2 separate regions of the Homo sapiens genome follow, and region 1 is linked to region 2. The links come from fine-mapping of genetic effects on gene expression. A gene starts in region 2. The other region holds a variant in brackets. All regions are shown on one strand. Distances are between the middles of the regions. Region 1 overlaps RAB11FIP4 (RAB11 family interacting protein 4). Region 2 holds the start of NF1 (neurofibromin 1).

Evidence for each region.
Region 1: its variant is fine-mapped to the expression of NF1 in whole blood (TOPMed, PIP above 0.99).

The regions. Positions count from the first base shown.
Region 1 is chr17:31,435,123-31,451,530 of GRCh38, forward strand. All of the region lies in intron 3 of RAB11FIP4 (RAB11 family interacting protein 4), which reads left to right. Among named protein-coding and RNA genes, the nearest start is that of RAB11FIP4, 52 kb to the left of the region's middle. RefSeq lists enhancers at 1-476, 477-977, 2,413-2,522. The variant C/CA (reference allele first, on the strand shown) is at 9,234.
Region 2 is chr17:31,086,022-31,102,429 of GRCh38, forward strand. NF1 (neurofibromin 1) reads left to right here and starts at 8,956. Exons shown (of 58, transcript NM_001042492.3): 1 at 8,956-9,348. The coding sequence starts at 9,289. It overlaps MIR4733HG (MIR4733 host gene), which reads right to left and starts at 9,469. Exons shown (of 4, transcript NR_186435.1): 1 at 9,206-9,469; 2 at 7,352-7,470; 3 at 5,004-5,097; 4 at 4,721-4,914. It overlaps MIR4733 (microRNA 4733), which reads right to left and starts at 8,404; the gene lies at 8,329-8,404. LOC124903974 (a long non-coding RNA gene) reads left to right here and starts at 5,614. Exons shown (of 2, transcript XR_007065704.1): 1 at 5,614-5,686; 2 at 6,855-7,106. RefSeq lists a promoter at 8,536-8,961, cis regulatory regions at 8,569-8,808, 9,035-9,345, an enhancer at 8,949-8,966 and silencers at 9,201-9,270, 9,311-9,360.

The DNA of each region.
Region 1 (16,408 bases), 350 kb after region 2:
CTTCAGTGAGCTGTGATTGTGCTACTGCACTCCAGCCAGCCTGGGTGACAGGGCCAGACTCATCTCCAAAAATTAAACAGTTTTTACAACCCAGTCTCCAGCCCCTCTCCTCTGCCTGGAGGTTGGGGGTAGGTGGGAAGGTGAGAAAGTTCCCACCTTATTGTATGCTTGGTCTTTCTGGTGACCAACCCCATCCTGAAGCTCTGTATCAGGAAGCGGGACAAAGACCACAGTCCCCAAGGCTCTGTTTTTCTGTTATCATTGCCTAATGGTGTGTTTCTTATGAAACTTTGAACTAGTTTTCCAAGCAGTGCAGCTTCATCCTACAGAGAAACAGTTGAAGGTGCACAAGCTGACAACCAGCGAGGTCCCTCCTGGTGGCAACACCCAGAACTAGAAGAGGATGATTTTGATTTCTTACCCAGCCCAACCCCCAAACCTTTTCCCCAGTTCTGATGGGTGCCTCCTCTGGACCCCAAAACATGAGTATGTTTATAGCTGAAGGAGATCCAGGACCCCAGAGGCCACTTTGGCTGATGGTAGGCCTCTTGGAATCCAGCTGGGTCGTGGGGTCAGGGTTAGGTTCCCTGGGCAGGACTGGAGGAGGGACAGTCCACAGAGAGGGACACAGTGCTGAGGGCTGCCAAGTCCATGGTGGCAGAGACCAAAGCCAGGCACCAACTGTGGGCCAGGGCCCCCAGGCTGGGAGTCAGGTGGCTAGGCCTCAGGCTGCTGTGCTCAAAGCAAGAGCCCTCAGGGATGCGTGGAGATAGCTGGGCCCCAGGCCCATGCCCATGCCAGCAGTGATGGCTCCAGGCCTGTCTTGATGGGTCCAGCAAGCAGGGGTTGAATATGTATTTGGGGCCAGCTAATGGAACCAGGATTAGGAAAGAGGACCTCCACTGTGGGACAAATACTGAGTGCCCCAGGAACTTTGCTGGGGGGGCCCTTCCTGGATTGCTGAGCAGGAGGCAGCGTGCAGAGGTGTGCAGGACTGGGTCCATACCCACGTGGGCCACCCAGGACAGGCCATGGAACCTGAGCACGTTCTTCTCAACCCCGCTGAGCGTCAGTGTCCTCAACTGTAAAACAAGGCTTGCTGTGCCAATCTGGAGGGTCTGTTGTGAAAGTTCAGTGGGAAGACAGACCCCTAATACGTGCTAATTCCTCGCCGCCTGCTGCTGTAAGAAAATGGTGCTGAAGTTACCATTTGCATTTTTCAGTTTACCCTCGGATACTGGTGTTGCAAAATTATGTTAAAGTAAAGCCCTGCCCCAGGAACTGGAGGGCAGAGTGGAGCCGAGGCCTGGGGAGAGGGGGTGGGAGTTGGGGTAGGGGTGACGTGTTCCCTGTAGTCTTTGGCTGCTTTTGTGGCCCCCACATTCTGCCATTCACACCTCTGGAAAAGGTGGCACATGGAGAAAAGATGAGCAGGGGGTGCAGAAGAGTGGGCCTCCACCAAGGTACTCTTTTTTGTAAACCGATATTGCTTTCCTCCAAAGTCTAGAGGTTATGGGAAAGCAGAAAGAAAGACCGCGTCAGCCTATCTCAGCAAGCCTGGTGCTTCTCCTTGTTTCTTCATGGGACTTTGCAATCCTATAGGTTTTTGTTGCTTTGGGTTTTGTTTTTTGTTTTTTTTTTGTTTTTTTTTGTTTTTTGTTTTTTTTGTTTTTTTTGTTTTTTGAGACGGCATCTTGCTCTATCGCCCAGGCTGGAGTGCAGTGGTGCAATCTCGGTTCACTGCAAGCTCCGCCTCCCGGGTTCATGCCATTCTCCTGCCTCAGCCTCCTGAGTAGCTGGGACTACAGGTGCCCGCCACCATGCCCAGCTAATTTTTTTTTGTATTTTTAGTAGAGATGGGGTTTCACCATGTTAGCCAGGATGGTCTCGATCTCCTGACCTCATGATCCACCCGCCTCGGCCTCCCAATGCTTTGGATTTTAAGCTTCTCGTGGGTGAACTCCTTTCTGCCCTCCATGGAGGTCTGGCCCCGGCTTGGTTGGCCAGAGCCTAGTGAGATGGCGGTAGCTGTGGACACAGTGGCAGCCTTGTTCATTATGCTCGCTGGGGCTGCTTGGTTGACCTGGACTCCATTCCCTACCATGGGCTTCTGCGTGTTGGCAGGGAGAGGAAGGGGGCACAATCCGAAGACCAGCCTGACGGGGCAGACGGCTTCTGGATTGTGAATGAGTCCTCTTCCTGGCTTAGGCTCCTGTAATAGCAAGGTCAAGACCACAGCTCTGCAGATGAGGTGTCAGAGTGGGCTGGACTGGGCAGGTCCGAATTTCTCAGGCCCGGCTCTCTGCGCCCTGCTGTGTCTTAGCTGTCCCCTAGGGGTCAGTCTGAGACTGAGAAGAAGCGGGTGCCTGGATCACTACGTAGGCTTCCCAGATGCCCCCAGGGAACGCAAACCTGAGGCATGATTTGAGGAGGTGTGGGGATGACACACAGATGGGATGGCAGGCGCTCCATCCCTGTGCCATGCGTGTATGTTGGGAGGTGAAGCTTGTTTTTCGGGCACAGCCCCCTCCCCTCAGGGTGTGGACGGAGACCTCTGACTTAACCACTGGATGTGGCTCGTAATTAAAGCAGTGAATGCTTGAGTGCTGGCTGGTGGGCCAGCAGCTGCCACCTGGCCCCTGAGAGCACCCTGCCCTTCTTGACCCCCTCCCAGGCCCCGAGAAGCCTCTAGCGTTGGGCATCAAGCAGGGGCCCCTGGGGTTGCTGTCCAGACCTCAGGCCAGTGCAAGTCTATCCCGGGCAGTTGATGCCTGGATGCACCAGTTCCTGACCTTACTGGATGTGGCTCCACCTGCGTCCCCAGAGCCCTGCGAGACCCTGGCAGAGGGAAACTTTGAGGCTTGGGAACCCCAACTGTTGAGCAGGCTGTTGAGAGAGTTTCCTGACCCAGGGAAATTTGCTTCTGGTCAAAGGGAATGTTAGGTGTGTCCTGAAGGACTCCCCAGGTTCCCTGGGTCCATGCATGGGGTCCCTGGAATCGCCCTGGGAGTCCCTCTGAGACTGTCCTGCTCAGGCTGCCCATCAGCCCCCAGTCCATATGCTATAGGGGCCCCCGTGGGGAGGGGGCATGGAGACACGTGGAGAGCCCGACACTCGGGTGCTAAAGGCAATGGGATAGTTGCTAGGGGCCCGTGGTCACCCCTCAGCAGGCAGTAATGTGAACCCTAATCCTACAAGTGCTGTAAGGCCCTGGGCCCTGTTCATCCACCCTATGGTGGATGAAATGGAGAGGGCATCCAGCCACCTGCCCCTCCTGTGTAGCCACCACGCCAGCAAATGGTGTCAGTAGCCTCCAACCCAGAGAGTCATCCTCAGCGCCTCCTCATGCAGCTGCCTTGAGTCCTCTGTTCCCCACTCACCCCTGCCTCCCCCTTCCATCACAGCCACTGCCACCCACTGACCGGGCGTCCTCCTGTCCTCAGCCTTCCTCTCTCCACACCCCCATCCCGCTCCTGGGACCCGTCCTTACCAAGGGATGAAAACCAACATCAGCTCCTACCCACTACTCTAGCCTCATCTCTCACCATGGTGCATCTCACACCTAAAACTGGCGATACCAAACCGCTCCCCGTTTCCTGAGAAAGCCATGTTCTCTCTTGCCTCTGAGTGTTATCTTTCTCCTAGGATGTCCTCCCTCCCGCTTCCTTGTCAGGAGCTAACGTCTACTCACCTTTTTAAGACTTACTTGCCGGGAGTGGTGGCTCATGCCTGTAATCCCAGCACTTTGGGAGGCTGAGGTGGGAGGATTACTTGAGCCCAGGAGTTTGAGACCAGCCTGGACAATATAGTGAGACTGCTTCTCTTAAAAAAAAAATTTTTACTTAGGTACCGCCTCCTCCAGGAAGCCTCCCTGACTCCTTCTGCCCCAGCCCAAAGGAGAAGGACCTGCACTGAGCTTCCTGGGGGCCCTTCACCCTCTACCACTGCCTGAACCTCACCCTTCATGACAGCCAGCCCCATGTCCACCCAGTGGCTTCAGGGCTCAGGCTGAGCTCCTCCTTTTCACCCCCAGGACAGCACCCACAGCAAGCATCGTTATCCATGCTCCTTGGGTGTGTCTCTAAGTATTTCTAGAACTAGGTATCTGGAAGCAGAATTGCTGTGTCAAAGGGTATGTAGATTTTGTTTTTTAACAGATACGGATGAAATTTTCTTCCACAAAGCCTGTACCATTTGTATCACCCAAGCACTATATGAGATTGCCCCTTTCCCCATGGCCTTCGCCAACCCCGGAAGCCATCCATCCACCTGCTGGTCTCCGGCCTAGCAGCCTGAGGGGAGGAAAGCCCATTGCTGCCGTCCTCTGTGCTGCCCAGCTTCCTAGGGAGGCGGACCATCTTTTTCTTATCTTCCCATACCCTCTGGATTTCTGCTTTTACGAATTAGCTATTCATATTCTTTGCCCATTTTCGATATGGTTGTTTGTCTTTTCCTTATTGATTTATAAGAAATCTCTGTATATTCTGTTTTTTGCTTGTTTGTTTTTTGAGGCAGTCTCGCTCTACTGCCCAGGCTGGAGTGCAGTGGCTCAATCTCAGCTCACTGCAACCTCTGCCTCCCGGGCTCAAGCGATCCACCTGCCTCGGCCCCGCAATTAGCTGGTACCACAGGCACACGCCACCACATCCAGCTAATTTTTGTTTTTTTGTTTGTTTGTTTGTTTGTTTTGTTTTTGGTAGAGACAGGGTTTTGCATGTTGCTCAGGCTGGTCTTGAACTCCTGTGCTCAGGTGATCTGCCCACCTCGGCCTCCCAAAGTGCTGAGATTACAGGTGTGAGCCACAGCAACAGGTTGAAATCTCTATATATCCTGATTATCAATCTTTATGGATTTTGCTTGTGTTTTAATCTTGTTTTAGGAGTGTTTTATTACACAGAATGTTAATTCTGATGTCATCATTTATCAACCTTTTTATGCCATTTGCATTTTGTGTATCATTTTGTGCCTTCTGTACCTCCAGGCTATAAACATATTCTCCTATATATAGTTTTCAGATACTTTTGAGAAAAAGAAGTATTTATGCTTAGCTCTTTTATCCACCTGGAGCTTATTTTTGCTTTTGGTGGGAGTAGAGATCTGGCACTCTTACTTCCTCAATATGGCCAGTACTTTGAGTTCCTAATGTTGAATAGTCCCTCTTTCTCAATTGATTTGAAATTTTATCTTTATTGTATGCTAACTTACCTTATATACGTAGGTCTCTTTCTGGACTCTGGTCTGTTATATTGATCTGTTTGTCTACCTACTTTTAAGCCAAAACCATAGTTTCAGTTACTCTTGTTTATAGTTTGATATCTGATAGGGAAAGGCTCTCTCATCCTTCTTTGTTTCTTTAACCTTTAAGGCCAGGTGCGGTGGCTCATGCCTGTAATCCCAGCACTTTGGGAGGCCAAGGCAGGTGGATCACCCGAGGTCAGGAGTTCAAGACCAGCCTGACCAACATGGTGAAACCCCATCTCTACTAAAAATACAAAAATTAACCAGGCATGGTGGCACATGTCTGTAATCCCAGCTACTTGGGAGGCTGAGGCAGGAGAATCACTTGAACCCGGGAGGCGGAGGTTGCAGTGAGCTGAGATCACGCCATTGCGCTTAAGCCTTGGCGACAAAGTGAGACTCTGTCATACACACACACACAAAAACAAATAAAAAAAACTGTTTTTTTGTTATTCTTACATATTTTCTTTTCTGGAACAGCCTTTTTGTCAAGCTCTATTGCAAATCCTGTAGGAGATCATATTTGAAATTAAATTTGTGCATTAATTGAAGGAAATTGGCTTCTTTACAATATTGCATTCTGTCATCCAGGAATGCATATATCTTTTCATTTATTCTGGCCTTTTATGCCCTCTAGGAAAGTTTTCTGTTGTTTTTCTTTTTTGGTTTTTTGGGTTTTTTGAGATGGAGTTTTGCTGTTATTGCCCAGGCTGGAGTGCAGTGGCTGGATCTCTGCTCACTGCAACCTCTGCCTCCCAGGTCCAAGCGATTCCCCTGCCTCAGCCTCCCTAGTAGGTGGGACTACAGGTGCCCACCACCATGCCCGGCTAATTTTTTGTATTTTCAGTAGAGATGGGGTTCTACTACGTTGGCCAGGCTGGTCTCAAACTCCTGACCTCAGGTGATCCTCCTGCTTCGGCCTCCCAAAGTGCTGGGATTACAGGTGTGAGCCACCGCATCTGGCCGGAAAGTTTTATAATTTTCTTAAATAGGTTATGCACACTTTCTTCTTAGGGTGACTATATTTGGAGTTTTTGTGCTGATATGTGTAGGATCTTTTTGCTATGATATTTTATAACTGGTTACAACTGATGTATAGGATAGGTTTTCATTTTTGGTGTTAATCTTGTCATGATAACCCTATTAAACTCTCCTTATTTTATTTATTTATTTATTTATTTATTGAAACAGGGTCTTGCTCTTATTGCCCAGGCTGGAGTGCAGCAGTGTGATCTCGGCTCACTGCAATCTCTGCCTCCCGGGTTCAAGCAATTCTCCTGCCTCAGCCTCTCGAGTAGCTGAGATTACAGGCGCCCACGACCATGCCTGGCTAATTTTTGTATTTTTAGTAGAGACGGGGTTTCACTATGTTGGCCAGGCTGGCCTCGAACTCCTGACCTCAGGTGATCTGCCTGCTTTGGCTTCCCAAGGTGCTAGGATTAGAGGTGTGAGCCACCATGCCTGGCCCATTAAACTCTCTTTATATTTAATAGTTTATTTATATGCTATTTTCTATCATGCTTAATTCTATATAACAAGGTAGCCATGCTGCCATTTTAAATTTTAAATGGCAACATGATATTTCATCACATGAAGACAACCAAATTTATATACCAGTTTCTTATTGTTGGGCGTATATACACTTTTTTTTTTTTTGAGACGGAGTCTCACTCTGTCGCCCAGGCTGGAGTGCAGTGGTGCAATCTCGGCTCACCGCAAGCTCCGCCTCCTGGGTTCACGCCATTCTCCTGCCTCAGCCTCCCAAGTAGCTGGGACTACAGGTGCCCGCCACCACGCCTGGCTAATTTTTTTGTATTTTTAGTAGAGACAGGGTTTCACTCTGTTAGCCAGGATGGTCTCGATCTCCTGACCTCGTGATCCACCTGCCTCGGCCTCCCAAAGTGCTGGGATTACAGGCGTGAGCCACCATGCCCAGCCAGGTGTATATATATATTTTTAACGTAATTTGGGGAATGAACAAAAGCAGTGTAATAATCATTCTTATAGCTAAGTATTTCCCCACAGCAGCAATCGTTGCTTTAAAGTAAATCAGAGGTTGGCAAATTACAGACCCCACGAGCCAAATCTAGGAGCTTGTTATTGTAAATAAAGTTTTACTGGAACACAGCCACACCCATTTGTTCACATCTTATCTGTGGCTGTTTTCACACTACAGTGGCAGAGCTGAAAAGCTGCCACAGAGGCCAAATGGACTGCAAAGCTTAGAATATTTACTGTCTGCCCTTTACAGAAAAAATTTGCCAACCCAGACGGTAAATTCAGGCAAGTGGAAACTGTTTTATGAAAAGGATGCAAAGGCTGGGCGCGGTGGCTCATGCCTGTAATCCCAGCACTTTGGGAAGTGGAGGCAGGTGGATCACCTGAGGTCAGGAGTTTGAGACCAGCCTGACCAACGTGGTGAAACCCCGTCTCTACTAAAAATACAAAAATTAGCCAGGCGTGATAGCGCATGCCTGTAATCCCAGCCTCTCGGGAGGCTGAGGCAGGAGAATCCCTTGAACCCAAGAGGCGGAGGTTGCAGTGAGCTGAGATCGTGCCATTGCACTCCAGCCTGGGCAACAGAGTGAGACTCTGTCTCAAAAAAAAAAAAAAAGAAAAGGATGCAAAATATTAAAACTGCCTAATACTAATCTGCCAAATTCCTCTGCAGGAATCCCATCAGGATTGCGTCAGATTCCTGCTACCCTTTTGATACTGGTGTTGCTGAGTTTTCAGATCCTTTAAATTTGAGAGGCTAAAATTAGAACCCCTCTTTTGAATTATAATACAGTTTAACTTCTTAAAGTACATTTTTTGGTCACTAAGAGGGCGTTCTTCATGAATTGCCTGTCGACATTCTCCACCCTGGCTATGTTTACTTCTATTGAGTATTTTTTAAGAACCAGAAATATAACTTTTTGACATACATTAAATTTTTTCCAGCTTGTTATTTATTTTTAACTTTGTTCATGATACCAAATTTAAAAATTTTTATAGCCAATTCATCATTCTTTTCCTTTATGGCTTCAGCCTTTGGTGTAATGCTTATAAATGCTTTCCCGCCCAAGATTGTGAAACTGTTCTGTTTTATTTTTGTGTATTTGATTTTTAATTCGTAGAATTGACTGATGTCTAGAGTGAGGTAGGGATCCAGTTTGCCTTTTTCCTGTCAGTTCCTCTTGCCCTCCCTCACCTGGCTGGAACCAGCAGCTTCTTGCTAGGCTATGCTTACGCACGCAGTCCCCTGATGGCAAAGGAAGTGAGGTTTGCCCGGTGCAGTGGCTCAGGCCTGGAATCCCAGCACTTTGAGAGGCCGAGGTGGGCAGATCACTTGAGGCCAGGAGTTCAAGACCAGCTTGGCCAACATGGCGAAACCCCATCTTTACTGAAAAAAAAAGAAAAAAATTAGCCTGGCATGATGGGGCATGCCTGTAATCCCAGCTACTTGGGAGGCTGAGGCACAAGAATCACTTGAACCCAGAAGGCAGAGGTTGCAGCCAGCAGAGATTGTGCCACTGCACTCCAGGCTGGGCAACAGAGCAAGACCCTATCTAAAAAAGAAAAGAAGAAAAGAAATGGGGTTTGCTGGGAACCCAGACCTGAGCCTGAGCCCAAATTGGCTCTTTTGCTCATATTCAGAAGGGGCTTTGCCAAACCCTTGTCTTCCTGGAAGTTTTTAAAATGATGATAACCTGTGCCTCTCTCTAGAACTTGCTGGGGAGGAGGCCTACAGCCTGAACATCTAAGCCCACCCTCGCTTCATTTCATCCATCCTGAAACAAGCATTTCTAAAACCACTCATGACAATGGCACTTATAAGTTCTAAAAATACTTTTCCTGACAAACAGCACTGTGATTCACTGTGCTGGTGGAGGTGTGGGTGGGGTGCCATGCTCCCACTGGTGTGGTGGCAGGAGGGAGTTTCAGAGCCCAGGGAAGCAGCCTTTCTACTTATATCTGGCCCCAATATATTTTTCTATGTTTCAACACCCCCC[C/CA]CACCCTTCTAAAGAGAAAAAAAAATCTACTTATCCCAAGCCTCAGAGCTTCTGTAAGATCCTCGATTTGTGTCTTTGGGAAATAACTCAACTCTGATTAAGCCAAAGGTGGCGGGGATGGAAGCAGTGCAGATATGGAAGCCCCTTTTGTTCGTTGCCTCAGCCTGGTCTGCCCTGGACCGTGTGTCTTCTACCTCCTACCCCTGACCATCCCTACCCTAGAGACGCTAAGCTGAGCTGGCCAGCAAGTGCTACTTCCCACGGGCCACCTCCTGCCTAACCCAACCCTGACGCCCAAGTCCACATGTATCTTTAGAACCTACTCACCAAGTTAGAGCTTGACAAAACCTTGGAGAGGCTCCTTACATCCCGTCTTTTTAAAGCTGAGCAGGAGGGAAAAATTTGGGTTTTATGAACCTGTAGGACATTAACCACCTTCGTATATACCTTTCCAGTCTCATTTCAGCATCCTTTCTTTCCCTGATTACATAGACTTTGATCCCTCCCCTTCTCCTTTGGATGAGTTATCCCTACCTGCTGCTTCCCTCATTAATGAGTCTAGTGCAGTGCATTTTTGAAACAGTAACTGTGGGAAACACACAAACACAATCACATGAGGGCAGATGTTCTCCGAGAAAGCACGGTCGAAACCAGTGGGGACTCTGGGTTAGCAGGGCCTATGGTGCTTCATGTGTCAGAGGCTGAACTGGGATATCAGTGGAGATTCTAAACTCACCATCCAGTTTATAAACCTCTGAGGGCCCAAGCTCCTGCTGCAGATGGTGCAAGAATAAAGAGTAGATCACTTTTACTAAACAAAGACCTAGAGAGTTGACTTGGTCTCCAACTTTTTATTTTGAAAATTTTCAACCTTCAGAAAAGAGCAGAACAATGAATCCACATATATCCTTTGCTTGGATGACAGCTGTTAACATGCTGCTAAACTGAGTTTCTCTGCCCCTGTGTTTGTTGGTGGGGTGCATGTGCATACATACTACTTTTTTTCTGGACCATTTGAAAGTTAGTTGCGGACATGACACTTCATCCTTAAATACTTGGCCATTCCTAAGAAGGACACTCTCCTATGTGACCACAATATAGTTATGACTTGCAGGAAACTTAACATTGGCACAATTTGTTACCTATTGTAAAATCTACATTCAAATTTTCCCAATTTTATATATATATATATATATATATATATATATATATATATATATATATTTTTTTTTTTTTTTTTTTTTTTTTGACACGGAGTCTTGCTCTGTCACCCAGGCTGGAGTGCAATGGCGTGATCTCCGCTCACCGCAACCTCCGCCTCCTGGGTTCAAACGATTCTCCTGCCTCAGCCTCCCGAGTAGCTGGGATTACAGGTGCATGCCACCACTCCCGGCTAATTTTTTTTTTGTATTTTTAGTAGAGACTGGGTTTTACCATGTTGGCCAGGCTGGTCTTGAACTCCTGACCTCGTGATCCACCCACCTCGGCCTCCCAAAGTGCTGGGATTACAGGTGTGAGCCACCGCACCCAGCCATCCCAATAATATTTTTATAGCTTTTATTTTTATCTCAAATCTAATACAGGATCACACAGTAGTTTAGTTGCCATGTTTCTTTAGTTTCCTTTAATCTAGAAGAGTTCCTTGGCTTTTTTTTTCTTTTCTTTCTTTCTATTTTTTTCTTTTTTTTTACTCCTAATGACATTGACCTTTTTAAAAACTTCAGGCCACTTGCTTCGAAGAATGCCCCTCAATTTAGATTTGCCTTTATTGATTTTCTGGTCCTTTGGGGTACTGCAACTTAAATTTAAATTAAAAATAAAATGGTGTGGCGAGGAGGGGGCCAGGAGGGGAGTTCTACTGTGTTTATTTTTCAAGTCTAAAACACATTTAAAATGCATATTGTTGGCACCCACTCAGTGGGCCTCAGTTTTCCCAGCTGAAACATGATCTAAACACCCCTTGCAGCTTCTGTCCCTTCTGGCATTTGGGGAAAAATAAATGCCTAATTGTGTGTGTGCGGCCGAGCGTCCACCCTTGGCATCTCTCAAATTGTGGGGAGGCAGCCGGCCTTGGTACTTTCTGGCTCCAGGAACACGCCATGGGCCATTGAACGTCTGTGCGATGGGTAACGTCTGTGCGATGAACACTGTACACTGGGTACAGTGTTAGGAGGTGTGGGCTCTTATACATGACCAGGCCACATCTCCATCCTCTTTGGGCTGAGATTAGGACATTGGAGTAGGTGTATTTGTCTCCTGAGAGGGGCAATCTCAAGAGAAAACTAGAAAAGACCCCCCCCACGTCTTTGGGGGGATTATCTGAGATAATGTGGGGAAGAAATCCAAGCCCCTAAGATACACTGGACGGTGCTTCTCCGGGTACCTGTGCCCGAGGGAGATACCAGCCACTTGCTGGGACACCAGGGGGCATCTTCCTGGAGCAGCAGATTGCCTGGAAGAATTGGAGAAAACATTGTCCAACATTAAAACAAACATGGAACATAATAAACATATTTTGAAGATAAGAAAGAAGCCTGTAATCCCAGCACTTTGAGAGGCCCAGGCTGGAGGATCCCTTGAGGCTAGGAGTTCAAGACCAGCTTGGACAGCAAAGTGAGACCCCCATATCTATTAATACAAAAAAGACAGGCGGGTGCCGTGGCTCTCGCCTGTAATCCCAGTACTTTGGGAGGCCAAGGCGGGCGGATCACGAGGTCAGGAGATCGAGACCATCCTGGCTAACACGGTGAAACCCCGTCTCCACTAAAAATACAAAAAATTAGCCGGGCGTGGTGGTGGGCGCCTGTAGTCCCAGCTACTCGGGAGGCTGAGGCAGGAGAATGGCGTGAACCCGGGAGGTGGAGCTTGCAATGAGCCGAGATTGTGCCACTGCACTCCAACCTGGGCCACAGAGCGTGAGACTCCGTCTCAAACAAAACAAAACAAAACAAGACAAAAATTAGCTGGGCTTGGTGGCAAGCACCTGTGTGTCCCAGCTACTTGGGAGGCTGAGGCAGGAGGATTGCTTAAGCCCAGGAGATTGAGGCTACAGTGAGCCGTTTGTGCGACAGCACTCCAGCCTGGGCAACAGAGCAAGATCTCATCTCAAAAAATAAAGTAAAATAAAGATAATGAGAAAGACTTTTATCAATTTTATTTTACTTTATTTTATTTATTTATTTTTTTGAGATGGAGTTTCACTCATTGCCCAGGCTGGAGTGCAATAGTACGATCTTGGCTCACTGCAACCTCCGCCTCCCGGGTTCAAGCGATTCTCCTGTGTCAGCCTCCCAAGTAGCTGGGATTACACACGCGCACCCCCATGCCCAGCAAATTTTTGTATTTTTAATAGAGACGGGGTTTCACCATGTTGGCCAGGCTGGTCTCGAACTCCTGACCTCAGGTGATCTGCCCACCTCCACCTCCCAAATTGCTGGGATTACAGGCACAAGCCACCGCGCCCAACTGCTGTATTTTATTTTTGAGACAGGATCTCACTCTAGCACCCGGGTTGGAGTGCAGTGGCGCGATCTCAGCTCACTGCAACCTCCACCTCCCAGGCTCAAGCAATCCTCCTGCCTCAGCCTCTTGAGTAGCTGGGACTACAGGCATGCACCCAGCTAATTTTTGGATTTTTGGAGAGACAGGGTCTCACTATGTTACCCTGGTTGGTCTTGAGCTCCCGGGCTGAAGCGATCCACCTGTCTCGGCCTCCCAAAATGCTAGGATTACAGGTGTAAGCCACCGCGCCCTGCGGGAAAGACTTTTTAAATTGTTTTGCTTTAGAGGCTGCTCTTTCGAGTCCCACTTCTACTGTAGACCCATGTCCATCTTCTGCTGTGGGGCCGCTTTATGTAAGGTATTACTGTTATTGCTATTTTGTTTTCCTTTTCTTTTTTTTAAGAAACAAAGTCTTGCTCTGTTACTCAGGCTGGAGTGCAGTCACTGCAGCCTCAACCTCCCAGGCTCAAGCAATCCTCCCACCTCAGCCTCCTCAGTAGCTGGGACCACAGGCTCATACCACCACATCCAGCTAATTTTTTTTTTTTTTTTTTTGGCAGAGACCGGGTCTAGCTATGTTGCCCAGGATGGTCTCAAACTCCTGGCCTCAAGCAAGTCTCCCAGCTGGGCCTCCCAAGGCACTGGGATTACAGTCATGAGCAACCTCTCCTAGCCCTGTTTTCTTGTAATAAAGTAAATGCAGTGTTCATTTTAGTAACAAAACAGGTCTTCACTGGGAGGGAGAAATGAGGAAATTTGACCCCGCGTGGCTGAGGCCTGGAATGAGCTCCATGGGCAGGCTCCAGGAATGATGTAATTTTGCCTCCTCTCAAGGCTGGCCTCAAGGAGGCCTGATTCCAGCCCTCTTTGTCTGGGGCTGCCCTGAACCTGTAAGAATCCTTCTGACCAGATCCTCCAGACACTGCAAATTCTCACCCAGGTTGCTCAGAATCCTGGAAAGAGCTCAGGTTTGAGTCAAACGGGCTGAGTGTGGGTTCTGCTTGACCACTTTCTGTGTGTCATTTGGCAAGTCGCTTCACCTCTCTGAGCCTTTTTCATTTCTGCCTATCTAAAATCAGAGTCGTCAGCCTGATTTTCAGTGTTGTGGTGAGAATGCAATGGATTAATGTTTCTAAAGGTTCCTGAGGAGACAGGTCCCCCAGTCAGTAGTACCTATGCCTGCATTCTCTGTACCACTCAGAACCCTCAGGGGAATCATTCAGGACACAGGGGACAGAATTCCCTCCCCTTCCCATTCCCAAAGTCACCAGCCTGCCTCCACCTGCACCCACACTTTCAGCTTGCTGCTGGGATGGTGAGTGGCATGACCCTGCTCTGACACAGGCCATGCCCTCCAATCCCAGCTCCTCACCCGCACACCGCCTGAACACTGGATCCCAGCCCCTCCTGCCAACTCAAGCACTCGCCTTCACAAACAGCCCCTCACCCACAGCACCCGCACCACGCCCCTGCTGGGTCCTTTCCATTCGCTTCTGGAGCTGACATAATAATGCCCTTCCCATGGGCAGGGAAGCACCCGCTTGACCACACATCCTGGCTTTCTTTCCTTTGGTCTATTTCCTCCAAAGACTGGTCTCAACTCCCTTTCTTGCCTCCCTTTCTCTCTGTTGCCACTCCCAATGATGTCTTGGCCCCTCTGTTCTGCTGAAACACTTCTCACAGTCACCAGGGACTTCTTTTTGAGACAGGGGTCTCACTCTGTCACCCAGGCTGGAGTGCAGTGGTGCAGTCCTGACTCACTGCAGCCTCCAACACCTGGGTTCAAGCAATCCTCCCACCTCAGTCTCCCAGGTAGCTGGGACCACAGGCATCTGCCATCATCCCCAGCTATTTTTATTTTTTGTAGAGATGGGGGTCTTGTTCTGTTCCCCAGGCTGGAGTGCAGTAGTGCAGTCCTAGTTTGCTGCAGCCTCAAACTCCTGGCCTCAAGCAATCCTCCAATCTCAGACCCCCAAAGTGCTGGTATGGCAGGCATGAGCCACCTTGCCTGGCCACCAGGAACTTCTCACTGGCCAAATCCAAGCATCAGTTCTCTAGTCACATTTTTACATAGTGATGGTGTGTGGTGAATAGATCAGGGTAATTAGCATATCCACCATCTCCGGCATTTATCATTTCTTCATTTTGGGAACACTCGATAGTCTCCTAGCTACTGAAAACTCTGTATTATTGTTAATGATAGTCATCTTACAGTGATGTAGAACAATGGAACTTATCCCTCCTCTAGAACTGTAACTCTGTACTTTTAACAAACGTCTCCCTACTCTCCTTCCCCTGCCATTCTCAGCCTCTAGTGTCCTCTGCTCCATTCACATTTTACTGGAACCCTGGGCAGGGCCTGGCACAGCCAACCTCTCCCTTCTCAGATCGTCCTTTTAGCTCAAGCCTTCCTCCTACCTCTCAGGCTGCTTTTCTCCCCGCACACCACCCCCCCGCCACCGGCTTTATTATTATTATTATTATTATTATTATTATTATTATTATTGAGACAGAGTCTCCCTCTGTCACCCAGGTTGGAGTGCAGTGGCGTGATCTCAGCTCACTGCAACCTCCGCCTCCGGGGTTCAAGCGATTCTCCTGCCTCAGCCTCCCAAGTAGCTGGGATTATAGGACGGCGCCATCACACCCGGCTAATTTGCATATTTTTGGTAGAGATGGGGTTTCACCATGTTGCCCAGGCTGGTCTCGATCTCCTGGCCTCAAGTGATCTGTCCACCTCAGCCTTGCCCGCCCTCCTCCTGGGTCCCTTTAAATGGCGCTGGGTCTCAGGCCTCGTCCTCACCCCTATGCTTCCTGCCTGCCCACTCCCCAGGGGAGCTGGTTGGTCCCAGAACTCTAAAAGCACCATTACCCTGAGGGCTCCCAAGATAGTATTTTCCCCTCCGACATTGCCTTCGGCTCCAGTCTCTTCTGTCAAACCTGTGGCGCACCCTCTGCATTTCCACCATGTTCCAGGCTACACCCTTTGATCTGATCCAGCTCCGTCCCCTCAGCCCCAAGAATGTTTCCCCAGGCTCCCCATCTCAGTAAATGGCACCACCTCCCCTACCTGGTCACTCTGACCAAGGATCAAGTCATCCTTAATTTCTTTCCTCCTTCCACATCCAACCCATCATCACAGCCTAATGGTTTTACCTCCAAACTATGTCCCGAGCCATCCACTTCCCTCCACCTTGGAGGTTACACCCCAGTCCCAGCAGAGCCGCACCCTGTACCTGTGCCCCGATGGCCTGCATTCTCTCTTGTTTTTTGTGGTCCATATGACACCGGAGTGTTCTTTAAAACTTGTAACTCCTAGTGGCTGGGCATGGTGGCTCACACCTATAATCCCAGCACTTTTGGAGGCTGAGGCAGGTGGATCACCTGAGGTCAGGAGTTCGAGACCAGCTTGGCCAACATGGTGAAACCCCGTCTCTACTAAGAATACAAAAATTAGCTGGCCATGGTGGCAGGCGCCTGTAATCCCAGCTACTCAGGAGGCTGAGGCAGAAGAATCACTTAAACCCGGGAGGCGGAGGTTGCAGTGAGCCGAGATGGCGCCACTACACTCCAGCCTGGGCAACAGAGCGAGACTCCATCTCAAAAAAAAAAAAAAAAAAAAAAATTGTAAGTCCCATCCTCCTCTCCCTTGCATAAGAGCCTCCAGTGACAAA
Region 2 (16,408 bases):
CTGATGTCTTGTAAGCACCCCTTAAAAGGAAGTTTCTATCATTCTATCATCTCTGATAGTTATTTAGAGACCTGATGTATCTTTCATAACTACACTTCTTCAGAGCAGAAATTGAATCTTCTCTTATGAGTCCCATGGAACACTTAGCTGCAATAGGTATGTGAGAATGAAGAAATAAATGATATTAATAGAAGCAGAGTTCTCTGAAAGACTGAGAGACTAACTATACCACCAAAGACAGAAATGTTTCTTTCTCAGCTGTTTATAACTTACCATTTTAATGGCTACACCAGAACATTCACATAGGATGAATCCTCATAGTAATTTTCCTTACCTAGGCAGTTGATAACAATTAGTCTGTTACTAATTGTTTCCAGCTGCTCCCCTTTGATTAATCAATCAAAACAAATTTATAATGGTTCTCCTGTGGTTTGATACTGCTAGGAGCCTAGCATGCCTGTGATGAAGACAAGATGACTACGTGTGCTTAAAAGTCCGGGGAGTAGGCTAGGCACGATGGCTTACGCCTGTAATCCCAGCACTTTGGGAGGCTGAGGCGGGCAGATCACCTGAGGTCAGGAGTTCTAGACCAGCCTGGCCAACATGGTGAAACCCTGTCTCTACTACAAATACAAAAATTAGCCAGGCATGGTGGTGGCTGCATGTAATCTCAGCTACTCGAGAGGTTGAGGCAGGAGGACTGCTTGAACCTGGAAGGTGGAGGTTGCAGTGAGCCAAGATCATGCCACTGTACCGCAGCCTGGGCAACACAGCAAAACTCTGTCTCAAAAAAAAAAAAAAAAAAAAGTCAGGGGAATAAGGACTGGAGTGGCCAAAGCAAGTTCAGCATCAGAGGATTAGGTGGGCTTTAAAGGAGAGACAGTGACTCAGGCCTATAATCCCAGCACTTTGGGAGGCTGAGGTAGATGGATCACTTGAGGCCAGGAGTTTGAGACCAGCCTGGCCAATATGACAAAACTGCAACTCTACTAAAAATACACGGATTAGGTGGGCATGGTGGTACATGCCTGTAATCCCAGCTACTTGGGAGGCTGAGGCATGGGAATCACCTGAACCCAGGAGGCAGAGGCTGCAGTAAGCTGAGATCATGCCACTCCAGCTTGGGCAACAGAGCAAGACTCTGCCTTGAAAAAAAAAAAGAGAAACAAAAGAAAAGTTATTTCAGACCCAGGTAAAAAGAACAAAGGCATGATAGTGTCCATTTCTGGCTCTGATTTCCTTTTGTGCCCCTTCCTCTGGAATGTTCCTCTTACAAAGTTTTGTTATAGTAGTACTAATGATACTACTACCACTTATGACAATTACATAATTAGTTACTTAATAAATAATCCAAATAAGTCCTAGACATCACTTGGCCCAGTTTTGGAGTAGTATAACATTCAGAGGAAGAACCTAGCAACCAAAAATGAAGTTAATTCCTATGTATATTTTCCTAATTACAACCCACAGTAACACTTCTGAAAATCACCTCTCTTTCTATGCCTTTAGGTCTCCATTCAGCAGCTGCTTAAAGCCCCTCTTTCTTTACTTTTCTCAGTATCTGTGGGGGTCAGTTAGGGTTACATTCAGCTGCATGGAACTGAAACCTGGATGCACATACTTCACAAAACAGAGGTTTTATTTTTCTTTCTGTAACCAGAACTCTGGAGGTAGGCAGTTCAGGGCAGGTACAGCTGCTTGAAGAAGTATCAGGGACCCAAGCTTCCTTTAGCTTCCATCTTTTGCAAAATAGCTGCTTCACTTCTAGGCTTTGATCTACGTTCTCAGCAGGAAAAAGAATAAAGAGTAAATGACAAAAGATCTGTGCTGTTGCTGGCAGGTTGGGCATTTGGTGGCATCAGCAGCTGGATCAGCCTTGTTGAGTGGGAGCCCTGCTACTCTGTATTTGCATCCTTTTCTCTGATGTTCCCCCAGGGTATGCCACTTTTTAAAAATGTCGACTGTTGGCTGGGTGAGAGGGGTGCAGTTTTAGAAGCTTCCCCAGGTATGGCCTTGGCCTTCCCCACTATGACAGCTCTTGCTCCACAGGCCAAGGAACTATCATAGAGGTTCTGCCAACCACCAAGTATGCCCATGCTAAGTACCCATTCAGAGAGGACAAGGACTCATCACTATATACCCTTGCTGGGAATCCGGTCTTCCTCAGTCATTAGGTTCTGGAAATTGGCTCAGGTTGAGAAACAGGGCAAGGGATTATGACTATTGGGGCAGCTCCTCTCAGCTGCCTCCTTATCTGTCCTTGTGTTTTAAAAACTACATCTTGAGGCACACAGTATCCTACTAACTACCTTCATAGCTTCCTGTGGGTCAGGCTTCCTTGGATGCCATTCTATCTTGCCACTTCTAACAATGCCACTTAATCTTCTGCTAGTTATGCACTGCTACCTGGTCTCTAGCAGGCCCATTGCTATCAGGGACCCTAGCTCCTGAAACATCTTCCACTATAAGCCCTGGTCTACAGAGAAAAGTGACTATTGGACTTCTCAGTGATGCTTGTGTCCCTCTCAATAGCACATTCCTTATTGCTTGTGATAAACAGCAGAACACAGCTGACAGGATAGGATGTAAATAATATGTCATTCCCACTTCTGAGTCTTTTGCTCCCTTCTTCCATTGTTTGCCAGGACAGCTCTGGCCTTTCTATTTTGCTTAGTGTGGACCACTGCTTTCTCCAAGCTTTCTAGAGCCATCCTAGCAATCTGTTAGCTTTATCTCCTGGAGTCCTTGCCAGAATGTAAATACTGTAGTACAGGAATGTGCTTATATCAATATGCTCTGCTTTATTTAGCATTATTTTCTCCTCCCTCCCCAATTCAGCACACTGGGGACCCTTTACCCAGTTCTCCCACCTTCTGCAGATGTGTATATAAGTTGGGTAGGTTTTTTTTCAGAGGAGTCTCTCTCTGTCACCCAGGCTGGAGTGCAGTGGCCCGATCTCGGCTCACTGCAAGGCCCGCCTCCTGGGTTCACACCATTCTCCTGCCTCAGCCTCCAGAGTAGCTGGGACTACAGGCGCCCGCCATCACACCCGGCTAATTTTTTATTTTTTTATTTTTAGTAGAGACAGGGTTTCACCATGTTAGCCAGGATGGTCTCGATCTCCTGACCTTGTGATCCACCCACCTCGGTCTCCCAAAGTGTTGGGATTATAGGCATGAGCCACCGCACCCGGCCTAAGTTGGGTAGGTTTTTTAGCTCCTTCAGGATACAGTGCCTCTCCTCCCTTAGCAGGTCTAGCATTTTCTTAATGGGGTTATGTGTGACTTGACCTTAGTTATTGGTCTGTTAGACAGGTGGAAAAGTGCAGGTAGATCTGAGGAGAGCGTGTGTTGCCTTGCAAGGCAGATAATACTTCTTGATCTTCAAGCAAGGGGGTGGGGTGCTAGTTTCTTGAGGGAGGAGTGGGACACTTCTACAAACCCAGAGCACTCAAGGTGATGTGGGGTTTTAAGGTTCTCAAGTGCATTGACCCAGATGCCCCATCTAAAGTGTCAGGGTCCCACTTCTCAACTATGCCCCTGACCTTGGTATAGTACACTCACTAGGGCTGAAAACCTTTTTGGCGTTCTTCTGCTCTTATAATTAAATCCTGAGCTTCATCTTCCGCTTTTTCTGCCTTATGCAGCTCCTACTTCCTTTATATGCTGCTAAGGAGGCACACTGGCTTTCTTCCTTAGCCTTTAATTGGTGATTCATCATCCTCAACCTTTCATTGTCTTTCTCCAAAGCACAGGTTTACTCCATCAGTAGCCATCCAATTTCATTGTTCTTAAACTACTATTTGCCCTATATTGTTAAAATGCCTGATAGATTGCACCTACGAGTGCATTGTTCCACTGAGGTTACATCCCACCCATTCCAGCTCTTCACCATTGCTGAAAGTTTTAACATCGTACTGCTATGGCACGCCGGGGCCTGTCAGGGCTTCCCCTGTGGACCTTACTGCTAACTGGCCAGGGGAATGATTCAGCTCCACTGGATCAAACCACATTCATGGGACGTTTTTGTCCGTTTGTTTTGAGACAGGGTCTTGCTCTGTCACCCAGCCTGGAGTGCAGTGGTACAAACATGGCTCACTGCAGCCTCTACCTCCTGGGATCAAGCAATCCTCCAGCTTCAGCCTCCTGAGTAGCTGAGATGACAGCTGCTCACCGCCATGTCCAGCAAATTTTTTTATTTTTTGTAAAGATACGATTTTACCATGTTGGTCAGGCTGGTCTTGAACTCTTGGGCTCACGCGATCCACCTGCCTCAGCTCCTAAAGTGCTGGGATTACAGGTCTGAGCCATGGTGTCCGGCCACACTCATGGATTTAATTGCCCTTGGAATCAACACCGTGCAGGAAAGGAGTAGGATTGAGCAGAAAAAGTTGAACTAAATGTAGTTACAGCAAATGCCTCAGCTTCCGGATCCTAAGGGAGCTCTGGTGCCAGGAGAGCCCTTCAGAGCAGCCCCACCCTGAGCCCTGCATCTGCCAGTCAGTGCAGACGGACCTGGTGAGAGGCAGCTTTCTTCAGCTGAAGGCAACTCCTGGAAAGGGATTTAGCTGATAGGTGTTGACAAGTAATGCGCCCAGCAGCTGAGGAAATGAGCACCTTAGTCCTGAAGAGTGGTGTGCTCTTTGGTATGCTGGGATGGTTGGTTGTGCCAGTGGAGATGGGGGTGGTGGGCAGAATGAAGGGAATACTACTGTAAAAGCTTTTTATTTTTTATTTATATTTATTCATTTATTTATTTTTTAAGACAAGGTCTAACTCTGATGCCCGGGCTGGAGTGCTGGAATGCAATGACACCATCACAGCTCACTGTAGCCTTGACCTCCTGGGCTCAAGCGATCCTCCCACTTCAGCTTCCCAAGTAACTGGAACCACAGGCACATGCCACCATGCCCAGCTAATTAAAAAAAAAAATTTTGTAGAGATGAGGTTTCGCCATGTTGCCCAGGGTGGTCTGGAACTCCTGGGCTCAAGTGATCCACCCACCTTGGCCTCCCAAAGTGCTGGGATGACAGGCATGAGCCACGGCTCCCAGCTTGGAACAAAACTCTTCGAAGAAAAAATTGGCAGAGCTTGTTGCCTGACCAAAAAACAGAGGCTGAATGAGAGAGATGCATTTAAAACAATACGAAACACTAAGGGTTCCCTGAATACTGTTGGACAGTGCAAAATGGGGGAAGTTAGGATACAAATCTAATTCTGTTCTACTGTAAGGCTCATGCCTTTTCACTAGACTAGTGCTGGTCAAACTGGTGTTCCATGGGCTACATTCAGACAGCAGACGTATTTTGTTTGGCTACACAGCATTTAAAAAATGTAAATTGGCTGCCACTATGTAAAAATTGGAAGAGTTTATATGTAAGTTCAGATCTCTAGCTTCTCTTGAGTAACTAGAAGATCTAGCAACACTGGGTCAACATTCCTGCATGGCAGTAACTGGAGTTGAGTGACAGATACTCTTTAAATGGAGAGAGTATCTCTTATCTGGATAAATGGAGGTGGGTATATGCTTCTTAATTCACCACAGTCTCTATGCATTACCTTCTTTGGCATTTTTTTTTTGAGATGGAGTCACTCTGTCGCCCAGGCTGGATTGCAGCAGCACAATCTAGGCTCACTGAAACCTCAGCCTCCTGGGTTCAAGCAATTCTCCTGCCTCAGTCACCCTAGTAAGTAGTTGGGATTACAGCCATGTGCCACCATGCCCGGCTTTTTTTTTTTTTTTTTTTTTTTTTTAGTAGAGATGGAGTTTCACCACATTGGCCAGGCTGGTCTCAAACTCCTGACCTCAGGTGATCTGCCTGCCTCGGCCTCCCAAAGTGCTGGGATTACAGGCATGAGCCACAGCGTCCAGTCTTCTTTGGCACTTTTGTTTAGCATTCCTGCCATATGTACTATGTATGGTCTAACAAAGTACATAATACATAACAGGCATTTGGGTACTTTTATTTTTATTTATTTTTTAGAGACAGGGTCTTGCTCTGTTGCCTAGGCTGGAGTGCAGTGGCGAGATCACAGCTCACTGCAGCCTTGACCTCTCTAGCTCAAGTGATCCTCCCACCTCAGCCTCCCAAGTTGCTGGGACCACAGATGCACACCACTATGCCTAACTAATTTAAATAATTTTTTTTGGTAGAAGCTGGGATCTCACTATGTTGCCCAGGCTGGTCTGAACTTCTAGGCTCAAGCAATCCTCCCACCTCGGCCTCTAAAAGTGCTGGCATTATAGGTGTGAGCCACCACGACCGGCCCATTTGGACACTTAATACTGGTTCAGCAGAACTGAATGAATTTAATTGGAGAGGAAGTTGGGGTGAAGTCTAGGCCTCTGACTATAATGAGAGGTTTGGCACTGAGGGGAGGCAACAGAACAGGGAGTACAAATTAGGATGAATTAATGACATGCTGGCAGGAGCTTGAGTAAAGGAAGAAGAGCAGAGGGCCAGGGCCTGAAGTTTGGGTGTCTTACCACAGAGCTAAAGAAGAGTGGGCAATGGTAGACTAAACTAGAGAAGAAGAGGAGAGAAAGGCACAGAGGAACTTCAGCAACGGAATGCCAGGGAAGGCAAGGGAGCTGAGGGTTTGGGCAGTTGCATCCAGTGTAGGGAAGAAGATCAGGGAGATAGACAGGCAAAAAGCCATGGCAACAAGGAAGTAGTTAGGGACTTTCAGAGGAAGTATGAGAAAAGGAGAGGAAGGTCATAGGTCTGAAGTTTAGCAGTGCAGTAGGGGGCACTGGAATACTATCTTGGGGGTATGAGTGAGTGCTTTTTCAGGGGTCCTACTTGGGAGAAACATAGATAGACATTCATTTAATATTCATCCATTTCTTTCCAGCATAGTCATCATTCTGACATCATCTAAAAGAAATTAGTATCTGCATTGCATCCTTAAAGAAGAAGGGACAAAAGACATGTCCAAACTGTCTGTCTGTTCTAGTGGAATAAAACATTAATTTAATATGTATTTTGGACAACCACCAACCTAGAGATTGGAAACTTTTCTCAAGGATATATCTCTCTGTATGTGGGCTACTGGCTTTGTGGCTTTTCTGTAGGAAAATTAAAATTCTAGTTTTGTTCTCCCTTATCACCCAGTGTCTGTGTGGCTTAACTGGCTGATTAGCGCGTGCTTGGAATGTGTAAATTCATTTTAACATTGGCCTAGGGGCCTGTGTGGTAGCTCACCCCTGTCATCCCAGCACTTTGGGAGGCCAAGGCAGGGGGATCACTTGAGGCCAGGAGTTCCAGACCAGCCTGGGCAACATAGCAAGACTGTGTCTCTACCAAAAAAAAAAAAAAAAAAAAAATTAGCCAAAGCAGGGTGACACTCACCTGTAGTCCCAGCTATTCAGGAGCTTGAGGTGGGAGGATCACTTCGGCCCAGGAGTCTGAGGCTGGAGTGAGCTATGATTGAGCCACTGCACTCCACTGCACAGAGTCAGACCTTGTCTCTGAAAAACAAAAACATTTGCCTAGGTAAAATGTATCGAGGAAGACAAATTTTAAAATTACTCATTCCAGGCCAGGTGCGGTGGCTCACACCTGTAATCCCAGTACTTTGGGAGGCTGAGGTGGGCGGATCATGAGGTCAGGAGTTCAAGACCAGCCTGGCCAATATGGTGAAACACCGTCTCTACTAAAAATACAAAAATTAGCCGGCTGTGGTGGCGCATGCCTGTAGTCCCAGCTACTCGGGAGGCTGAGGCAGAAGAATCACTTCAACCGGGAGGCGGAGGTTGCAGTGAGCCGAGATCGCGCCTCTGCACTCCAGCCTGGGTGACAGGGTGAGACTCTGTCTTAAAAAAAAAAAAAAAAAATTAGTCATTCCAAAGTCCAATGTCAGACATAGATTATCCGTTGTTTTGGATGTAATCCTCTTCCTGGAAAACTGGCACAACCCAATTACACATGAAATCCTTTCAACTCTGGTATTGGAGGTATAGGGAAGGACTTTGTTTTAGGAGACCCATAGTCTACCTCTATTGTTCTAGGAGTTAAACCACGTTGGTTTACATCCTGACTTTGCCACCTGTCAACTCAGACCTTGGGCAAATCAAAGGTCTGAGGGAGGAGTGCAGGCTCCCAGCGTTCCCACGGGGGTGGGGACGTGACGTATTCATCAGTTCATGAAGTTAATGATATGTATTGAAAAGGTTTGTTCAAGGATTTAAATAAGACGATGAATATATTGAATTAATAATGAATGCAAGGCCTTAAAGGTGTTTTGAGGGTGGTGAAACTTGAATCTCTCATCAACTGTGCAATAGTTATATTAACTTGGATGGCTATGAGTTTTGCAGAGGAAAGCTGGGCTTAAATCCCAATGCTAGACCTGGTGGCTAGACCTTGATTGCCACCGGGTCTAGCATTGGGATTTAAGCGACCTCTAAAAAAAAAAAATCACGGAATCTCTCTTTGGCCTTCCTTTTTTGTTTCTCAGCAGTCTACCAAGCTACGAAGAACCTGAAAATCGGAGGTCGTGTACCTTATTTTTTCTGAGAGCTTAAGCTGAGAGCACAGCCTCCCCAGGAGATTAGCGGCAGAGATCCGCGCGCTGGGAGAAAGGCTAGCCCCAGGGCGCCCTAACTTCCAACTCCGGGAGCAATCCAAACCCGGAGGCCGGCGGGGGAGGGGACAGCTGTAGGGGGCGGTGGGGATGGGAGTGGATGCTCCCGGGTCAGCTCTGGCACTCGCCAGCTGAGCCCAGCGCCAGTCTAGGTGAGCCCCACGGCGGTGAGGGACGCTCGCCAGACGGCCCAGAGGAGTTAGATGACGTCACCTCCAGGAGGACTCGCTTTTTCATTAATGAAACCGGCCGGCGCGGGCGCATGCGCGGCAGGCCGCCTTCCCTCTCGCTTCCCCCTCCCCTTTCCCAGCCGCGCTCTCAATCTCTAGCTCGCTCGCGCTCCCTCTCCCCGGGCCGTGGAAAGGATCCCACTTCCGGTGGGGTGTCATGGCGGCGTCTCGGACTGTGATGGCTGTGGGGAGACGGCGCTAGTGGGGAGAGCGACCAAGAGGCCCCCTCCCCTCCCCGGGTCCCCTTCCCCTATCCCCCTCCCCCCAGCCTCCTTGCCAACGCCCCCTTTCCCTCTCCCCCTCCCGCTCGGCGCTGACCCCCCATCCCCACCCCCGTGGGAACACTGGGAGCCTGCACTCCACAGACCCTCTCCTTGCCTCTTCCCTCACCTCAGCCTCCGCTCCCCGCCCTCTTCCCGGCCCAGGGCGCCGGCCCACCCTTCCCTCCGCCGCCCCCCGGCCGCGGGGAGGACATGGCCGCGCACAGGCCGGTGGAATGGGTCCAGGCCGTGGTCAGCCGCTTCGACGAGCAGGTAACCGGCCCGTGGCGGGCGGGAGGTGGGAGCGGAGTGGGGGTGGGGACAGAGTAGGTGAGGGGAGGTAGGAGCGGCCGCCTCCCCCGCGGCTGCCTCAGGCTCTGGAGGAAAGGAAGGGAAGGGAAGAGAAGGGAAGGGGGGATAAGTGGGGGTGGCCAAGGCGGGAGGTGAGGGGTAGGAGGGGACAGCTGGGAGCTTGGGCACCCTTTCCCTCCTAAGTCGGGGGGTGGGGCCTTGTCCCTGACCAGCCTCCGACCCTCCATCCCCTTTATCCCAGCCCTTCCGCTTGGAAATGGGGATGAGTGACCTGGGGGCGCCTTTAGGGGCGCGCCATCTGGATTTAATAATTACCCCCTTACTTTTGTTTTTGAGCAGAGGTGGGTAACGTTTAGGGGTTCTCTCTTCCTCTTCCCTCCGTGACCCTCCTAACTGGGGACGAGCGAACCCTAAGGCCTGTCTTATATACCCTCAATAGGAGAACGATAACATTCCGCCCCTCCCCCAGTTTCTTCAGCTTCCTCTCCTGGAGGGGGAAGAGCAGAAGAAAGCAAGGAAGGCACAGGTTTTCTTACTTTCTGCTCCATCGTCTCATCCTGCCCCGAGAGCTTCAAGTGCACACTCACTGCACATCTTTGTGATGCCCTACAACGTCGTCCCCCATATCCTGATGACACAGACTGCCTTTTTTTTTTATTGCCGTTTGCAGTGGAAACCGTGGTTCTGAAATATCTTCCCCTTCCTTGATAATTGCAGTCTCTTCCCCCCCCCCTTTTTTTTTTGCCAGCGGTCTGAGGATGTGATGCATTCTCGAGTGAGAATGTTGGGGAGTAAAGGGGAGAAGGGTGAAAGGAAAGTGAGAAACTGCTTCAGAGCCACCGACAACAGAGCAAAGCCAGCTGGGATGTGGTCCTGGAGCGGATCATTCTGCTAGTGTTTGTGGTTGTTTTTGACTCTCTCCTGGTTGACAAGAGAACTTTCATTGAGAATATTTGGGATGAAAAAAAAGTTTTGTAGCTTGAGGAGGTGACTTTTTATCGCCTGAGTTTCACACAATAAATCCTGGGGCTGATTAGAATAAATGCACACATAGCCTTTTGTCAGTGGAAATTGGTTTAACTTTGTGTTGCTGTAGGTAGTTGGGGATGGTTTAAGGGATGCTTTCTGCAGCTGTGGGTGCAGTGGGCTTCCTGTGATGGGGGAATTGTTTAAGATTGAGTCAACCTATTTTGTTTACTGGATATAATGGTAAAACATTATGGGAGCTGAAGGGGTGGGGGAAGAGCTCTTCTGTTATTTGATGCATAAACATTTCTTTACGGGACTCAGCGTTTCAGACCTACCTGGAAAATATCTTGGAATAGACAGAGGAAGTTGAGAAGAAGCTATGTAGATAAAATAGAGTTATGAAGCTGTCAGAGACTTGAAGGAATTGTTTTATCCATTCGTATGCTTCCAGACCCAAAGGCATCTAAACTAAACTACTAATCCATCTGAAGTATAATGTTACTGCATATAAAAGATTACATTATTGATAGAGCGTTAGATTTAAAACTTGGTAGAAAAGACTCTGTAATTTTAAGAAAGGATTTAAAAGGCACATAGAAGACTTCCAAAGCTGAACCTTGTGGACAGCAGAATCTGGATGTAGGAAATTGAAGGATCCACGCCGCAATTCTCCTTAAATTTTAAAAATTAAAAATTTTTTTCAGTTTTTTCTTAATTTTATTTTTTTACTTCTTACCTGTTCATCTCTAGGCTTATTTGCCATATTGGAAAAAGATACTTAAGAGAGGAATGATTTTGGGCTGGGCGCGGTGGCTCACGCCTGTAATCCCAGCACTTTGGGATGCCAAGGCAGGTGGATCACCTGAGGTCAGGAGTTTGAGACCAGCCTGACCAACATGGAGAAACCTCGTCTCTACTAAAAATACAAAAATTAGCTGGGCATGGTGGCGGGCGCCTGTAATCCCAGCTACTCGGGAGGCTGAGGCAGGAGAATTGCTTGAATCCGGGAGGTGGAGGTTGCAGTGAGCTGAGATCACACCACTGCACTCTAGCCTGGGCGACAGAGCGAGACTCTTGTCTCCAAAAAAAAAAAAAAAAAAAAAGGAGGAATGATTTTGATTATATACCCAGTAAAGCAAGAAAGTGTTTCTCCTTCTGTCCCTAGCTTTAAAAGACCTTAAGGCTTCGTTGTTTGTTATGCATATTGTGGAATCAAACTCACCACCATCTGTTAAAAATTAAGGACATTAGTTTTTAAAACAGCATTTTTCTGCATTCCTTATGTTGTAATTAAGAGAAAGATATATAGGAGAGATTATTCCTCACTTTTTTTTTTTGAGACAAGGTCTTGCTCTGTCGCCCACGCTGGAGTGCAGTAGCTTGATGTCGGTTCATTGCAACCCCTGCTTCCCACATTCACGTGATTCTCCTGCTTCAGTCTCCCAAGTAGCTGGGATTACAGGTGTGCACCATCGTGCCTGGCTAATTTTTGTATTTTTAGTAGAGACGGGGGTTTCACCATGTTGGTCAGGCTGGTCTTGAACTCCTGACCTCAGGTGATCTGCCCCCCACCCCCTGCTCGGCCTCCCGAAGTGCTGGGATTACAGGCATGAGCCACTGTGCCTGGCCTATTCCTCACATTTTTCTCTTAGAAAGTTAAAGTCTCTGACCTTGAGATACAAAAATGTAAGGGTTTTCAGTGTTTAACATAAGGTACTTATATATATTATATATAGTATATATATAAAATAAATTAATATATTAATTTATTATATAAGTGATAAATGTTTAATTCAAATTAGAGTTCACCTTACGGTTGAAAATGTCTTTTAGTCAGAAAACTGAGGCATGGGAAGGTTAAGTGACATAGATCTAATAAGAGCTTCAGTATGAAAAGTAGTGAATGCTTGACCATCAGGGAGATACTTTTCCTAAGTATCCCATAAAATTTGTTCTAATCCATTAAATATATTTAGAAGACTTTATTTTATTTTTTTTATTTTTGAGACGGAGTTTCATGATTCTTGCCTAGGCTGGAGTGCAATGATGCGACCTTGGCTTACTGCAACCTCTGCCTCCTGGGTTCAAGTGATTCTCCTGCCTCAGCCTCCCAAGTGGCTGGGATTACAGGCGCCTGCCACCACTCCTGGATAACATTTGTTATTTTTAGTAGAGTGCTGAGATTACAGGCGTGAGCCATCGCTTACATTTTTATTGAGGGGAGAAAAAGCCCTGCATGTACTGAGAGATAGTTGTATAAGAATCTTAAGAGTTGGCCGGGCGCGGCGGCTCACGCCTGTGATCCCAGCACTTTGGGAGGCCGAGGCGGGCCGATCATGAGGTCAGGAGATCGAGACCATCCTGGCTAACACAGTGAAACCCCATCTCTACTAAAAATACAAAAATTAGCTGGGTGTGGTGGTGGGTGCCTGTAGTCCCAGCTACTTGGGAGGCTGAGGCAGGAGAATGGCCTGAACCTGGGAGGTGGAGCTTGCGGTGAGCCGAGATTGCGCCACTGCACTCCAGCCTGGGTGACAGAGCGAGACTCCATCTCAGAAAAAAAAAAAAAAAAAAAGAATCTTAATAGTTTCAACTGTTTATAAAACTTTTGAATTTTGGATTATATTATCTGTACTTTGCTTTACTGGGCCCAGGGGGAGTTAAGCTTTCCTTCTTATTACAGCTAAGAGTTTGCCTGTTGGACCACTTAACGCCCCCAGGGAGCATGTGCATGTCTAAAGATGGCAACTCTGTTTATGATTGCTGTTTTGGTTGGATTTCTAATATTCGGTGTGATTAAAGCAGAAATGCATTTCTAGCCACTGCTGATTACAGACATATTGCACTCTGATGGGTATCGCTTAGCAACTTAGTGCAGTAGACTCAGTTAAAAGAAGTGGATGTGTGCCATATTGACATTTTGAGCTCACATTCTTGTGGGTAATATAAAATTCCTTAACCTGATAATATTGCAGCTAAACCTAGTATTTAGGGTCTAAGTTGAATGAGTATTACCAATTTTAGAAGTAATCACCTCCTTGGTTAGGGAAATGACAGTTGCACAGGTGGACAGCCAGAAAGCTGAATGTTATCAGTTAAATCTTACATCTCTCCTTAACCTGCCTTCGTGGTGCCAAATAGCAAGTTTCTAATTGAAACTGACAAATTGTAGGTGTGTAGCTTTTTTTTTTTTTTTTTTGAGACAGAGTTTCGCTCTTGTCTCCTAGGCTGGAGTGCAATGGGGAGATCTCAGCATACTGCAACCTCTGCCTCCTGGGTTCAAGCCATTCTCCTGCCTCAGCCTCCCAAGTAGCTGGGATTACAGGCGCCCACCACCACGCCTGCCTAATTTTTGTATTTTTAGTAGAGACGGGGGTTTCACCGTGTTGGCCAGGCTGGTCTCCAACTCCTGGCTTCAGGTGATCCACCTGCCTTGGCCTCCCAAAGTGCTGGGATTACAGGCGTGAGCCACCACGCCCGGCCATGTGTAGCTTTTAATTGTGGTTCATTAACCCAGTTTCTAAGCAAATTAGAACCTTCTGTGTATCTCCCCTAGTTCTGTATGCCCCACTGGTTCCTGTAGAGCTTTATTTCTGAAGGGAAGTATGGGAAAACTATGGATATTTGAACTAAAAAAAAAAAAAAAAGAATTAAAAAGAACTCCATCCCAAAATGATTTGTTGTAAATATGTTCATTTAAAGCAATTATATTTTCCATATCTGATCAAGCAAAAGTAGTACATAAAAGCCAAAAAACCCAATTTAAAGAATATGTTATGGAATAAACTCTGATTTTAGAGGTTGTAGTAGCATATTTGTTGTTCTCATACATTGAGTGTTCATCTGAATGTACGTTGAATATGCGGTGAGTGATTCACAGTATAAAATGATTGGCAAGTATCTTCGAAATTACAAACCACATACTGATTAGACAAATAGATTTGCAAAACTGAAGCTTTTTGGATTTAAAAAATATCTCCTAGCCTCATTCTTCAAGCCTGGTGTGTAATTTTTATAAGGCCTTATAGTAGTTGAAAATGAGTACTCTTTTATGGTGACGAATTCTTTATGGTGAGTGAGAAATAATGCTTATTCTTCCAATTTTAGTATATGTGGTGCTGAATCGAGCACAATAATGCTTATTCTTTGCTTCGGAATTTTTTAATTTATTATTATTGTTATTTTAAATTTTTATTTATTTATTTATTTTGAGATGGAGTCTCACTCTGTCGCCCAGGCTGGAGTGCAGTGGCGCGATCTCAGCTCACTGCAACGTCTGCCTCCTGGGTTCAAGCGATTCTCCTGCCTCAGCCTCCCAAGTAGCTGGGACTACAGGCGCATGCCACCACGCCCAGCTAATTTTGTATTTTTAGTAGAGACAGGGTTTCACCGTGCTAGCCAGGATGGGTCTGAATTTCTTGATGTCGTGATCCACCTGCCTTGACTTCCCAAAGTGCTGGGATTACAGGCATGAGCCACCGTGCCCGGCCCGGAATTCATCCTTTAGAAAGATTTCTTCCAGCTGTTCCTCAGTTCTCTGCACTCCCTTACACTTTCCACCTTATCTGTCTGGGAACTAATTTAGTCTTTATGTTGGCTGCTTTCTTTTCACTTTTCAGGCTAAGATTTCCTTTCTCTTGGAAATCAGACGTTTACTTGGTCCTGCAGCTCTCTCTCTGTGGACCAGTCTTTTTTGTTGTTGTTGTTGCCAGATACTCACCGCCTCTACTGTTTATCCACCCATTTCCTTTATAACTCTGAAAAGTAGCTCCTGCCTCTGCTTGATTGCTGTTTTCTTGAAAGTGATTACTTCTGGCAAAACATAGTGGTCATTGCTTAGTTGTAATGCCACTGTGATGTTCCACTCCCCCCGGAAACCAATCTCTTCCAGTTCCCAAGACACAATACTTTTCTACTGAATTGGAGTTCCTTAGCGGGGGTCTTAGTTTTGTTCTGCTATTCAGTGCCTTTGTCCCTATCCTAGCCATTAGCTTTCCTATAGATCCTTGATTTCCTCATCTGTTGAAAAAGAAATGGCTAGAAAATCTTTTAGATTCTTTCAAGTTTAAATATTCGATGATTTTAATATTCTAACAGCATGTCTCTGTGACCCAGCAGTCTATTGGGAGCTGACCCCACTTGATTTACCAAACTCTTTCCCATTATGCCTCTGCATGCACCTATGTTCCAGGCAGGTCACCTCAGTCTCTTCTGTGTGTATCATGCTTCTTCCCACTTCTTGGCCTTTATTTCTGCCAGTCTCTGCCTGAATGCTTTAATTCCTCCTTTGTGCTTTTCTAATTCCTGTCCATCCTTCAATGTTCAGCTCAGATTTCATTTTTTTTTTTTCCCCATGAGGTTGTTTCAGACTAAACTCTGCTATCTCACTTCTTGGTATCCTTGTTACCTGGAGTTTTACAGAACCACACAGTAAGTTTTCTTCCTTTAGGAGGATTGTTTGAACACAGCTTGGCTTTGTTTTCTTTTTTTCTTGTCTTTTTATCAAATGGAGTGCATACTTTCTGAAAAGCAAAGAACGCTATTTGAATTCTCTTCTAGTCACCCCAGTGCCCAGCACAGTCTTAAACACACAGAACATTGATGGAATGTTTTTCATATGATTCCTGGTTGAAGGGTAGACTGGCTAAATAAAAAAAGTGGTACTTTTGGCTTTGTTTTACTGAATTTTACTTCCATGTTTGCAATAGCCTAGGTCTGATAAGTGATATTTTAACTAGGAATGAGTAAGAAAATTAGCATAAAGAAGGAATTTATACATATTTATATTTCCTCCCATAGAGCAAACATGTTTTTTGAATCAGGTTTCAGATCTGATCAACTACTTTTGTAATTTTGGATTTGTCACTTACTGTTAGGATATTTTGCAATGGTGTGATAGAATATGAATGTGAAGCACTTTGAAAAGTCTAAAATTTTTCTAATATAAGATTTATATGTTTTCTTTATAGCTTATTATTATTATTATTTTTTGTGTGTGTGACAGAGTCTTGCTCTGTCACTCAGGCTAGAGTGCAGTGTAGCTTATTACTGA